3 separate regions of the Homo sapiens genome follow, and all the other regions are linked to region 2. Evidence: fine-mapped expression QTL. A gene starts in region 2. Each other region holds a variant in brackets. All regions are shown on one strand. Distances are from middle to middle.

Region 1 (4,356 bases), 87 kb before region 2:
GTAGAATTTAGCTGTGAAGCCATAAGGTCCTGTGCTTTTTCTTTGTTGGGGGACTTTATTACTGTTTTAATACTGTTACTCATTATTGATGTATTCAGGTTTTCTTCGTTATTCAGTCATGGTAGGTTATATGTGTTCAGGAACTTATCCATTTCTTCCAGGTTTTCTAATTTGTTGGCATGTAGTTCGTAATAGTCTCTAATGATTTCTTGTATTTCTGTGGTATCTGTTATAATGTTTCCTTTTCTTTTTCTTTTTTATTTTACATGAATAGTGCTTTTATTTATTAATTAAATTTGTTTATTTACTTTGAGACAGTGTCTTGCTGTGTCACCCAGGCTGGAGTGGGCAATGGTGTGATCTCAGCTCACTACAGCCTGGACCTCCCAGGCTCAAGTGATCCTCCCACCTCAGACTCCCAGGGCTGGGACTACAGGCATGTGCCACCACACCCAGCCAATTTTTTAAATTTTTTGTAGACAGAATCTATGTTGTCCAGGCTGCTAATGTTTCTCTTTTCATCCTTAGTTTTAATTATTTGAGTCTTCTCTTTTTGTTAGTCTAGCTAAGTTTGTTGATTTATTTTTTCAAAAAACAAACTTTTTGTTTTGTTCCTCTTTTGTATTTTTTTAAGTCTCAATTTCATTTATTTCTGCTTTAATCTTCATTATTTCTTTCCTTCTACTAATTTTGGCTTTGGCTTGCTCTTGCTTTTCTGTTTCCTTGAGATACATTATTAGATTGTTTATTTGTCTTTCTATTTTTTTGATGGAGGCATTTACTTCTATAAACTTCCCTCTTGCTGCTGCATTTGCTGTATCCTATAGTTTCTGGTATGTTGTGTTTCCATTTTTGTTTTTCTCAAGAAATTTTTTAATTTCCTTAACTTATTCGTTGAGCCATTGATCGTTCAGGAACATGTTATTTAATTTCCATGTATTTTTACAGTTTCAGAAGTTCCTCCTGTTACTGATTTCTAGTCTTGCTCTGTTGCAGCCAGAAAAGATATTGATATGATTTGACTTTGTTTAATTAATTTGTTGAGACTTGTTTTCTGGCCTAACATGTGGTCTATTCTGGAGAATGTTTTAGGTACTGATGAGAAAAATGTGCATTCTGCAGCAGTTGGATGAAATGTTTTATGGATGTCTGTTAGGGCTAGTTGGCTTAGAGTATAATTTATCTCCAATGTTTCTTTGTTGATTTTCCACCTGGATGATCTGTCCGTTGCTAAAAGTGAGGTGTTGAAGTCCCCTACTGCTACTGTATTGCAGTTTATCTCTCCCTTTAGCTTTGCTAATATTAATATTTGCTTCATATATTTGGGTGTTCTTGGTGTTGGATGTATATATATTTATTGTTGTCATGTCTTCTTGCTCAGTTGACTGACACCTTTGTATAATGACGTTTGTGTCTTTTTACAATTTTTGACTTAAAGTCTATTTTATCTGGCCAAGTGCAGTGGTTCATGCCTGTAATCCCAGCACTTTAGGAAGCCAAGGTGGGCAGATGGCTTGGCTCAGGAGTTCAAGACCAGCCTGGCCAACATGGCAAAACCCCGTCTCTAGTAAAAATACAAAAATTAGCTGGGCATGGTGGCGCATGCCTGTAATCCCAGCTGCTTGGGAGGCTGAGGCACAAGAATCGCTTGAGCACAGGAGGTGGAGGTTGCAGTGAGCTGAGATCACACCACTGCACTCCAGCCTGGGCAGCAGAGCGAGACTCTGTCTCAAAAAAAAAAAAAGAAAAAGACAAGGTCTATTTTATCTGATATGAATATAGCTCTTCCTACTCCTTTTTGGTTTCCATTTGCATGGAATATCTTTTTCCATCCCCTCACTTTCAGTGTATT[G/T]TGTCTTTACAGGTGAAGTGATTTTCCTGTAGGCAACATATAGTTAGATCATGTTTTTTAATCCATTTTGCCACTCTGTATCTTTTAATTAGACAGTTTAATCCATTTACACTAAATGTTACTATTGATATGTCAGGATTTACTGCCATTTTTGCTTCTTTTCTAACTCCTCTCTTCCTTTCTTCCTTTTTTACTGTCTTCTTTTGTGGTTAAGTGATTTCTCTGGCAGTATGTTTTAATCTATTGCTTTTTATTTTTAGTGTATCTGTTATAGATTTTTGCTTTGTGGTTACCATGAGGCTTACAAAAAATATTCTGTAGTTAACAACAAGTTACTTAAGATTGATAACAACTTTGATCACAAAAAGAAGAGAAAACAAAGAACACTGTACACATTAGCTCCATTCTCTTCCCCACATTTTGAACGTTTGATGGCACAATTTGCATTTTTATATTGCCTGTCTCTTGGTAAATTGTAGTCATTATTTTTAATACTTCTGTCTTTTAGTCTTCTTAGTAAATATATAAGTGGTTTATGCATCATGATTATAATATTAGTGTAACAATCATGTTAACAGTCTTTTTCCTGTGGTTTAAAAAAATTCCCTTTAGCATTTATTGTAGGACAGCTCTGGTGATAAATTCCCAGTTTTTGTTTGTGAAAGTCTCTCTTTCACTTCTAAATAATAGCTTTGCTAGATAGAGTATTCTTAGAAGGCTTTTTTTTTTTCCATCAGCACTCTGAATATATCATCCCATTCACTCCTGGCCCGTAATGTTTCTGCTGAGAAGTCTGCTGCCAGGTGTATTGGATCTTTCCTAAATGTTATTTGCATCTTTACTCTTGCTGCTTTCAGGATCTTCTCTTTGTCTTTCACCTTTGGGAGTTTGATTATATGTCTTAGAGTATCTTTACTTGGACTGACTCTGATTGGTGACCTTTGACTTTCCTGTACCTGGATATTTGTATCTTTCTCCAGGTTTGGGAAGTTTTCTGTTATTATTTCTTCAAATAAACTTTCTACCCCTGTCTTTCTCAGTTCCCTACCTAACTCCAACACCCCAAATATTTGCTTTTTTATGTTGGCCCACAGATTCATAAGCTTTCTTCATTTCTTTTTTTTCTTTTTTCTCCCCTGTGTATTTTCAGCTAGTCTGTTTTCAAGCTCACTGATTGTTCTGTTTAACCAATTCTGCTGTTGCTCCCTATTACATCTTTCATTTCATTCAGTGTATTTTCAGCTCCTGAGTTTCTGTTTGATTGTTTTTATTATTTCAATCTCTATATTAAATTTCTTTGATATATTCCTCATTTGAGTCTCTGTGATTTCCTGAAGTTCATTGACCTTCCTTAAAACAGCTATTTAAAATTCTTTGAGAGATCTCACATCTCCATCACTTTGGGGTAAGTGGCACCTTATTTTATCCATTTGATGAGGTCATATTTCTCTGAATGTTCTTGATGCTTGTGGAAGTATGACGGTGTCTACACACCAAGGGGTTACATTTTTATTTTAGTTTTCACAGTCTGGCTTTGTTTATGCCTGGCCTTCTTCAGAGGGCCTTCCAGGGATTCTAAACAGACTGACTTGTGTTTCCTGAGCCTGTGTCTACTGCAGTTGTCTCAGCACTGGAGGACGCTCTAAGCCTAGGCTTGCTCCATGTCTTGTGAGGGCTCGGAAGTTGATGCCAATTTCTGGCCCAGATGGATCTGGGGAAGACACAAGGAAGGTACCGGGGCTGGGTGGGAATGCTGGCCAGGGACCCAAGTCCAGAAAACTGTCCCAGTGGCCCAGATGGGTGTGCCTCCCAGCAGGTATTTACACAGGAGTAGGTGGAGCTTAAGAGACAAAGGCAGTATGACTTCAATGGCATGTAAGACCTGGCCTTTGACTATTTTTGTGATTCCCCTACCACTATCACTCTCCTCTTCCTTTTCTAGCCACATTGGCTTTTTGTGCCCCAACTTCTCACCGCAAAACATACACTAAGTTTATTCCAGCCATATAGACTTTGTATTGTATATATTGTTCCCTCTGCCTAAATTGCATTTTCTACAGGTACCTATGTGATGGCTTCTTTGCATTCAGGCCTCAGTCGCTTTTTCAAAGTTGCTCTTCTTCACTACCCAAATAAGACTATCCCCCATTCTGATTACTACATCTGTCACCCTCTTTTGTTATCTTCACAGCATTTATCAGTAGCCAAAATTATTTATTCATTTATTTTCTTAGTTATTTTCTGCTTCTCCCTGCTAAAGTATAAACCAGGAAAGGAGCTCTCTTATTTGTGTTATTCATTTTTCAGTCCTTTTCTAAAATAATGCCTGGCATATTTTAGTGAAGTGAAGACAAGGGTAGTCTCCCCTTATCTGCGGTTTCCTTTCCACGATTTCAGTTACTGCAGTCAACCTCAGTCTGAAAATAGGTGAGTACAGTACAATAAAATATATTGAGAGAGAGATGACCACATTCACATACCTTTTATTACAGCATTTTGTTATA
Region 2 (4,356 bases):
CTCCCATGCTGGATGCTTCCTGCCCTCAAATACCAAACTCCAAGTTCTTCAGTTTCGGAACTCAGACTGGCTCTCCTTGCTCCTCAGCCTGCAGACAGCCTATTGCGGGACCTTGTGATCATGTGAATTAATACTTAATAAACTCCCTTTATATATATATTCCATTGGTTCTATCCCTCTAGAGAACCCGGACTAATACAGACCGGGTCTCCAAGCTGGTCTCGAACTCCTGGGCTCACTCCATCCTGCCACCTCAGTGTCCCAAGTAGCTGAGACCACAGGCGCACACCATCACACCCAGCTTTTTTCTTTTTTTAATTTTTTTTGTAGAGACGGGGGTTTCACTATGTTGCCCGTGCTGGTCTTGAACTCCTGGACTCAAGAGATCCTCCCACCTCAGCCTCCCAAAGTGCTGGGATTACAGGCTGGAGCCACCACACCCAGCCCAATTTACTATTTTTCAAGGTTGAGTCTGAAAAGAAACACAGATAGCCACTCTCGTTCTAAAAGAAAAAGAAAGGGGTTTAACAGAATTTTATGTTAGGGAAGTATTTGAATATGAGGGTATTGTGAAAGAGGAAAAGTTTAATCACTAGTTAGAAGAAAAAGAAAATAAATGCAAAGAATTTAAAGTTCTATTTTAAGCAGAACTCCAAAAAGGTTATTAAGGAAAAAAAAAGTAAAAGTTGAAGAGTTCAACATGTACTTTTATTCCAGTATCCAAATCTCCAGAATGTAGCTGAAAATGTTACATTGGACATCTTCTTTCCGTAAAGAATATTTTATTTTAAAGTCACTTATTTCTATCTTATTTTTTAAATGTTTAATCTCGGTGTTGCGTTATATTTCTAATCAGAAGAAAAATGACCCTTTTCCTTTTAAGTACTTGATTGTGTGTCCTTTGTAATGATTGAAGGTAAAGGACTTTTCAATGTCTCAGTTGTAAAGTAGCAATTTTCTTTCAACTTCCCTTAGTTTCCTAGATAACACTCACCTCAACTCCCAAATCACTCAGCAAAACAACAAAATCCAAGAATGTAAAGTAGTGAAAGAGAAACCTTTCATAATATTTAAATGCATCTTTCCTTTGACATGGTATCATGCCCCTAAACACATAAAATGGTATTTCTGATAATAAATTAATAGCAAAATCCACTTAGGAATAACATGGATGCCTAACCCTTAATTTTGTATAAAACGTAATTTTTATCAACAGAGTCAACCAAAAAGTGGCTTTGACAAGAGTAATCACATTGAAATACTAGATACTGAAGATAATGGAAAACTGTAAGTTTCTCTCAATTTTTTGCTCAAGAAACCACATCTCTTACAGAAGGAAATGATCATAATCCGCTTGTAATTAAACTTGTGCACTGAAGAATAAGGACCTTCCTCCCAATTCGTACCAGCTTAACGGGTGTCACGATAAGAGAATCTCATTACATTCGAGAAAAAGAGCACACAGGACCAGAAACCAGAGGGCAACTGCAGTCCCAAAGACATCAGGTAGTTGGGCTTACACACAGAAAAACCGCAAGCAGCCATTCTTCCGCCTAACATCGAAATCTGAGATCAGCCCACAAACGTCTTAGCCAGAAAGGCTGGCGAAATGCACGCAGCACAGGTACTGGGTACACAAGTTCCTGGTCAAGAGAGAAGTGAGAAAGATCCAGGTTCTGTGAAAATAGCAAATACTGGCAGGGCATTATACACTGTGCACACTCTCCCCGGGCAGATAAGACCAACAAAGATGCATAAACCCACTCAACCGCGTGCACCCAACCCCTCTCCTGGTCCGAGGCACCGGAGGGCGCGGCGACGTCCAGGCTGCCGTGGAGGCCCGGTCCACGCCAAGCCAGACTCAGTCCCGGCCACCGGGCAGCAGCACCGGAGTCTCATTCCCGGTGGGAAGAGATGCAAGGACGCACCCCCAGCCGCTCACCCGCCAGGGCGTGCGGGACAGTGCACGCCGCGGAGGGCGCCGGGACCCTCAGCACCAACGCGCACATCGCTCACCTGGCAGAAGCACCTCTGTGCCGCTGTCTCCGGGGGCTGCTCCTCTCCGTGGCCCGAGCTGAGCAGCCACACGGCGCCCAGGAGGCCAAACAAGAATCCCCAGCCGCGGCCCATTGCAGCTCCGGCAGCTTGTCGCCCCACGCTTGGGAGGCCAGTCCGCACGCTCGGTCGCGGGCCGTGCGCCCTCAGATGAAGCCCGTGCGGGCCGGCCCCAGCGGCGCCCCACCTCCGGGCCGCCTCCCAGGCCCGCCTCGGCCCTCCTGCCTCTCAGCGATCGCCACCTCGCGACCCAGCCTGTGGACGTGCCGCGGCGCCCGCGCCGGCAGCCCGGGGCCTCGGACCGGTTCCTTCCCGCCGCGTGAGGCTGACGCACCGACCAGCTTCCCGGCTCGGCCCCGCCCGGTCCGCTGCGCCCGCGCCCGTCCCCGCCCCCGGCTCCCTGACGCCCCCGGCCTGGAGACGCAACCCGACGCGCACAACCCCAGACCCTGCGCGGGAGTCGGGGGTCCTTCCAGTTCCCAGAGCGAGAGCGAAAGCCGGAGGGGCCTGTGTTTTCCTGCGGGGTTGGGGGGCGGGGGGTGCCCGCCCCGCGCCGCCCCGCCCAGCCCCAGCCCGCTCACTCCCGGCCAATCCTTCCGTATCTCAATGCGAGACAATCAAATCGTACGAATTACGTGTCCACCGTGTTCCCGGCGGAGTCTTAAAGCTGAAAGGGATATTAGAGAGCATCTAGACCAGGGCAGCATATGTCATTTATATTTTTAGTAGCCACAGCAAAAGAGTAAAAATAACAGGTACATTTTATTTTTAAAATATTTTTATTTAACCCCGAATGTGCAAAATATTATTTCAAAATATAACCAACATTAAATTTATTCATAAGATATTTGACTTTTTTTGTCTTTGAAATCCAGTGTGTATTCGATGCGAACTAGACCCATTTCATAGTCAAATGTGGCTGGCTAGTGCCCACTGTATTAGACAGCGAGGGTGGAAGCCACCCGCTCATATCATAGGAAGAAACAGGCCTAGAGAAGTGAGGTAAGGTGAGCAAGGATTGGAGGTCCTCTGATACCCAGTCCTGGTCTTTTAACATTCAGAGTTGGGACTAGTCTATCCGCTTTTTTTTTTTCCAGACAGGGTCTCCCTGGGTCACCCAGGCTGGCCTGCAATGATGCGATCGCAGCTCACTGCAACCTCGAACTCCTGGGCTCAAGCGATCCTCCCACCTAAGCCTCCTGAGTAGCATGAACTACAGGCGTGCGCCACCACGCCTGGCTAATTTTATTTTTAGTAGAAACGAGGTTTCACCATGTTGCCCAGGCTGGTCTCAAACTCCTCAAGAGCGATTCTCCCGCCTCAGCCTCCCAAAGTGCTGGGATTACTTTTTTTTTTTTTTTCGAGGCGGAGTCTCGCTCTGTCGCCCAGGCTGGAGTGCAGTGGCGTCATCTTGGCTTACTGCAATCTCTGCCTCCCAGGTTCAAGAGATTCTCCTGCCTGAGCTTCCCCAGTAGCTGGGATTACAGGCGTAAGCCACCACACACTCGGCTAATTTTTGTATTTTCAGTAGAGAAGGGGTTTTGCCATGTTGGCCAGGCTGGTCTCTAGCTCTGAGCTCAGGTGACCCACCCATCTCAGCCTCCCAAAGTGCTAGAATTGCAGACATGAGCCACCGCACCTGGCCTTACTTTTTGTTTTTTGTTTGTTTGTTTGTTTGTTGTTTTAAGAAGACTTTTTTTTGAGACACTCTCACTTCCTCACCCAGGCTGGAGTGCAGTGGCGCAATCTCGGGTCACTGCAACCTCCGCTTCCCGGGTTTAAGTGATTCTTACGCCTCAGCTACCCGAGTAGCTGGGATTACAGGCCTGCGCCACCATACCCAGCTAACTTTTGTATTTTTAGTAGACATGTGGTTTCACCATGTTGGCCAGGCTGGTCTCGAACTCCTGACCTTAAGTGATCTGCCTGCCTCTGCCTCCCAAAGTGCTGGGATTACAGGTGTGAGCCACTTCACCAAGCCTAAGAAGGTAGTTTCTAGGTGAAACTGGCAGCTTTCCGACATCTTGCATGCACATTAAAAGTTGAAATAGTTCAAATGACTTAAACTCATGTATTTTACTGCAAACCCTAGAGCTCTGCCTATCACTGCCAAGTAGACATGTAGTAAAAGTCAACAACCCATCTGAGATCCTGATGGACCTGAGAAGCTCTAATTCTAGTATCTACAACATGTCACATGTACATATTAATACAATCTCCCTCCTAACCTGAAAGCTTTTTTTTTTTTTTTTCTTTTTCTTTTTTTTTTTTTTTTTGAGATAGATTCTCACTCTGTCGCCA
Region 3 (4,000 bases), 360 kb after region 2:
AGATTTGGTTAAAACATTAAAAGAAAAAAAATCCCACAAAGCCCTGTAACGTGTTTTGTCAAAGACAAAATCCAGCATTTTTTTTTTTAAAAGAGAAGCTGTGGAAAAAGAATCAGAAGTTAGTCATAAAAATAATTTTAAACTGCTAAAGTTAATCCATAGTGATACATTTAGAATATACTGAAAATTAAGAGATTAAAAATATCTCTTACATCCAAGAATACTGTTTTTAAAAGTGAATGTACTCCCCTAAACTACATTAAATATCTGTGTTGAAAGCAATCAGCTATGACATACCTACAACCCTAAGTGGTAAATTTACTGATACCTGAAATAACCAAGAATGATGACATTCTTTGTACTATTAGAAACCCTTTTATATCTAAATGTATTAAATGAAAAGAAATAGCAAACCTCTTTGGAGCCTTTAGGACAATAAAGAAGGAAGAAAATGACCTTATGCTTTTCTTCAGGTTCCTTCTTTGTAGAAGTATACACAAATATACTTTAGCACATTAAGTGGCTAGTCAATTTTCAGGTTTCAGAACCACTACCATTTAAGACTAGAAAATATGGGATGAAAATACACATAAAATAGTCTGTAATGGTAACACTGAAGCTGGGATCTCATAGAAGAACTGATCCAATTTTTCAATAAGCAGAAGAACTCTAAGTAGATCATTTTTATAGTATTCTGAATGCTATTCCTGACATATACCATACCGAGGGCATTATCTTTATTCTGCATTACATTTTCCGGAAAAAGAAGTTGTGGGAGATTAAAGAACGATTCTTGAAGTCTGAAATCTGTGAAAAAAAAACACAAGATGCTGTAAAGGGTTGGCTGATGATTAAAAATGGCCTTCAATGATGTAGTGGCCAAAAGTTAGAACAATACTCCCAAATAAACTGACTAAATCTAGCATACATAAAGTAGTACACATCTTAATTTTTGTAAGGAGCTCTTTCATGGAAAATGTAAGCATAACTAACTTGAAATATAATCTCATAATCTGTTAACACCCAGATAGTCCCCAAATTCATAGCTAATTTAGTTCCTAACCTAGATGCAAAACAATGCTAAAAGAAACAGATCTTTGCATTATATGTTAGAAAAGAAGTCTAGACTTTTCAAAAGAAGAATAGCTAGGTAAGATGCTTCAACTGGATGAAAATAAAATAGGTTTCAATTGACAACACTAGTTCTTCACATAAAGAAACAGACAGATCATGAATTCTAAGCCTGTGCCCCATTTTACCCTCAAATAGCAAGTGAATCAAAGTCGGTAGCTTCAGAATAAAGGTTATCCAGAAGAACTGAGGCAATTAATGTAAGTAGAAGGAAGAAAGGAGGGAAGCCAGAATCACCTAATCACAATGACCAAATTTCAGAAAGAAGATTTAATGAAGAAAAGTTTTATGATTTGCACGATATAGCCAAGACAGCACTTAACGACGAGAAATTATGACGATTACACAGATTACATTATTGAAGCAAGCCAAATAATTAGTAAAGCAAATCTTGGGAATAGGATTTAAAAGGCAGAATCTTATTATAATAGTCCAATTTTAATAGTTATATCTATATCTAGAGGTGAATAT[G/A]TGTAATATGTATAATATATAAGTATGTGTAATATGTGAATATGTGTAAGACTCATAATTACCTCATATTGAGTCTTGTTGACTATTTTACCATTCGGACTATCAAAGAATTTATGTGTAAGAATGACATAGTATGTATTTTGTTAAGCTCTCAAAATAAAAAGATGCAATACAGCTATGCACCTCTACTAACTGCTGTTCTGGAAGAAAAAACTGGGGGTTTCTCTATTATTTTGAAATTACTATGTTAAACAGAAAAAAAAAACCTAAAAAAGTTTTATTCCCTCAGAGCCTGTAGATTCTATACATACGTTTTCATTACCCTTTTTCTAGGGGGTTAAACCCTACCCTGCTCTTCTTGCTCCCTCCCTCACTCTGATGTTTACTAGCACTACTGTTGCACATTAATGACATTACAGAGAACCATGACTTTTTACCTGCTACCTTACAAAATTCTTTGAAATTAATTTTCTTCAGCAGTTAGAGTTTTCTTGACATCTGCATGTCACGACAGAATTTTGTATTTTCACAATCACATTTTTGATATTAAGTAGAAAAGGAAACAAGTCAGAAATAGTATGAGAACTCTTATAGAAGGTAAAATATATTTAATGCAAATATCAAAGTCTAAAAAAGAATTTTCCAGACTTGCAATTATAAAATTTTCAGTGTCCAGAGTCTGGCACAGATATAATTAAATTAAAAATGCTGTTGGCCCAAGTAGGAATGTTCAACCCTATTAATAATTCATCCTGGAGTGGAGTTGACTGTGGAAGAATTATTCAGCCTCTAGGAGTGTCACACCTGAACTTTCTAAGGATGGATGGCAATGAATGCCATCATTTTACAATTTAGAGTAGCAGACACAGTAAGAACACAATACTCTAAGTAACAAATAAAATCTGTTTAAAAATTTCTAGAGAAAGAAAAGTTTTCTCCCTGCTATAGTTACAGAAAAGGAGTAGCTAGTTTCAGAATTTATATTTCATTATAGGTGTCAATGAAAAAATAGGACTTGACGTTTTAGTTTTATTTTACTAGACACCTAAAAATAATGTTCAAGTTCAGACTCTTGGAAGTAAATATATACTAAGTGTATTCGTGTTTCACAACTACTCAACATTTCAAACTTTCTAAGTCCACCGGAGAAAGCTTAAAGATCCATATAATGCTAAGTCCAACATAACTATCCATTTATTTACTCATTTTTTCAATATCTGCTTTACACTAGGTAGCTGGGATAGAATTGGAAGCCATTCAGCAGATCCAATAAAATTTCTAAGCTTTGAATAGAAGTAGGATGACTTTGGTATAGCAGTTTTTAAAGTCTCAAGACCAGATACAGCATAGATCTAAAGCAATAATTACACGATTTTTGAGACTGAGAAGATCACATTAGTAAAAATCTACTTTATAAACTTCAGGGGGTACTTACCCTAAAGAGATTTGTTTTATGCTTGATGGTTAAGACCTTGTGCCACAAGGCCCTAATTACTAATATTCTATTAATTCATCAATGCAGAAAGTAAAACTGCATTTTCCTGGAAATTATTCTTAAAAATATAAGCAGAAGGAAAGCATTTTTTTCTTTCAAAGTTAAGGCACACTTTAGATCTTAGAGTTGACTAGCTAGTATTAATATTTTATACCTCCCTGCCCTCCCCAAGTTTTAAAAAGATACAGTATCAACTTAAGGAAATAATGTATGAACTAACATGCAGAATCGAGGAAGCCAGAACTGCTATGTGGAAGGGTCTGTGTCCCTACGGTGGTAGCAGAAGGTGAGGCAACTGGCTTCTTCTCATCTTCCATTGAGTCTTTTGATGTTTCAGATGACTGTGTTGTAGATGAACGTCCAAATCTTGAGAACAACATTCCTCCAAGTCCCTTTCCAATGCTAGCAGCCCCTGTATTTCACAAAGCAGGGTAGTCATTCTGTTGAATCACACCACACTCTAAGCTAAAGAGCACCACCCATAATTATAGCCAACTGGCAGAGGGACCAAACCCTAGTCATGTTTTTCCAGGGTGGGAACATAAGAAAATTATAATTTATATTGCAGGTTTCTAAATAAAAATGGTGAATAGAATGAGAGTTGTATAAGCTCTAGGAATATAACACAGGAATATATAAACAAAGGAATAAAGATTCTATTTTATTCAAGTGATCATGGTTTATTAAAATATTTGGCAAGATTAAAGTCTTTGATAAAAGAACCATGCCATTGACATGAGTATAGATTTACTATTGATATACTTACTACTGAATTTAAATGGACATGTAAGAAAAAGCCATCAATAAACAATGTATTAACATGAGAAAGTAAAACAGCCAATGAGTCCAGGAGATAAAGCCTATTTATAGTGCCACCTTGTGGTATTTTACATTAAGGCAACT

Which allele goes with the higher level. Alleles are on the strand shown, and positions count from the first base shown. SD is a standard deviation of normalised expression in the study named. Not every link is listed here.
With allele G in place of T in region 1, the expression in fibroblasts of the gene that starts at base 2,207 in region 2 is lower (small effect, 0.16 SD a copy in GTEx).

What was found. PIP is the estimated chance that this variant, and not a neighbour inherited with it, causes the effect. A credible set is the group of variants that fine-mapping cannot tell apart.
Region 1: its variant is the best candidate, but not a certain one, in a credible set for the expression of ERO1A in fibroblasts (GTEx, PIP 0.50).
Region 3: its variant is the best candidate, but not a certain one, in a credible set for the expression of ERO1A in whole blood (INTERVAL, PIP 0.78).

What each region holds. Positions count from the first base shown.
Region 1 is chr14:52,606,144-52,610,499 of GRCh38, forward strand. All of the region lies in intron 3 of GPR137C (G protein-coupled receptor 137C), which reads left to right. Among named protein-coding and RNA genes, the nearest start is that of GPR137C, 55 kb to the left of the region's middle. The variant G/T (reference allele first, on the strand shown) is at 1,853.
Region 2 is chr14:52,693,352-52,697,707 of GRCh38, forward strand. It overlaps ERO1A (endoplasmic reticulum oxidoreductase 1 alpha), which reads right to left and starts at 2,207. Exons shown (of 16, transcript NM_014584.3): 1 at 2,017-2,207. The coding sequence starts at 2,130. RefSeq lists enhancers at 1,732-2,233, 1,839-1,888 and a silencer at 2,139-2,678.
Region 3 is chr14:53,051,121-53,055,120 of GRCh38, forward strand. It overlaps DDHD1 (DDHD domain containing 1), which reads right to left. Exons shown (of 13, transcript NM_001160148.2): 11 at 3,318-3,509; 12 at 724-807. Among named protein-coding and RNA genes, the nearest start is that of DDHD1, 100 kb to the right of the region's middle. The variant G/A (reference allele first, on the strand shown) is at 1,603.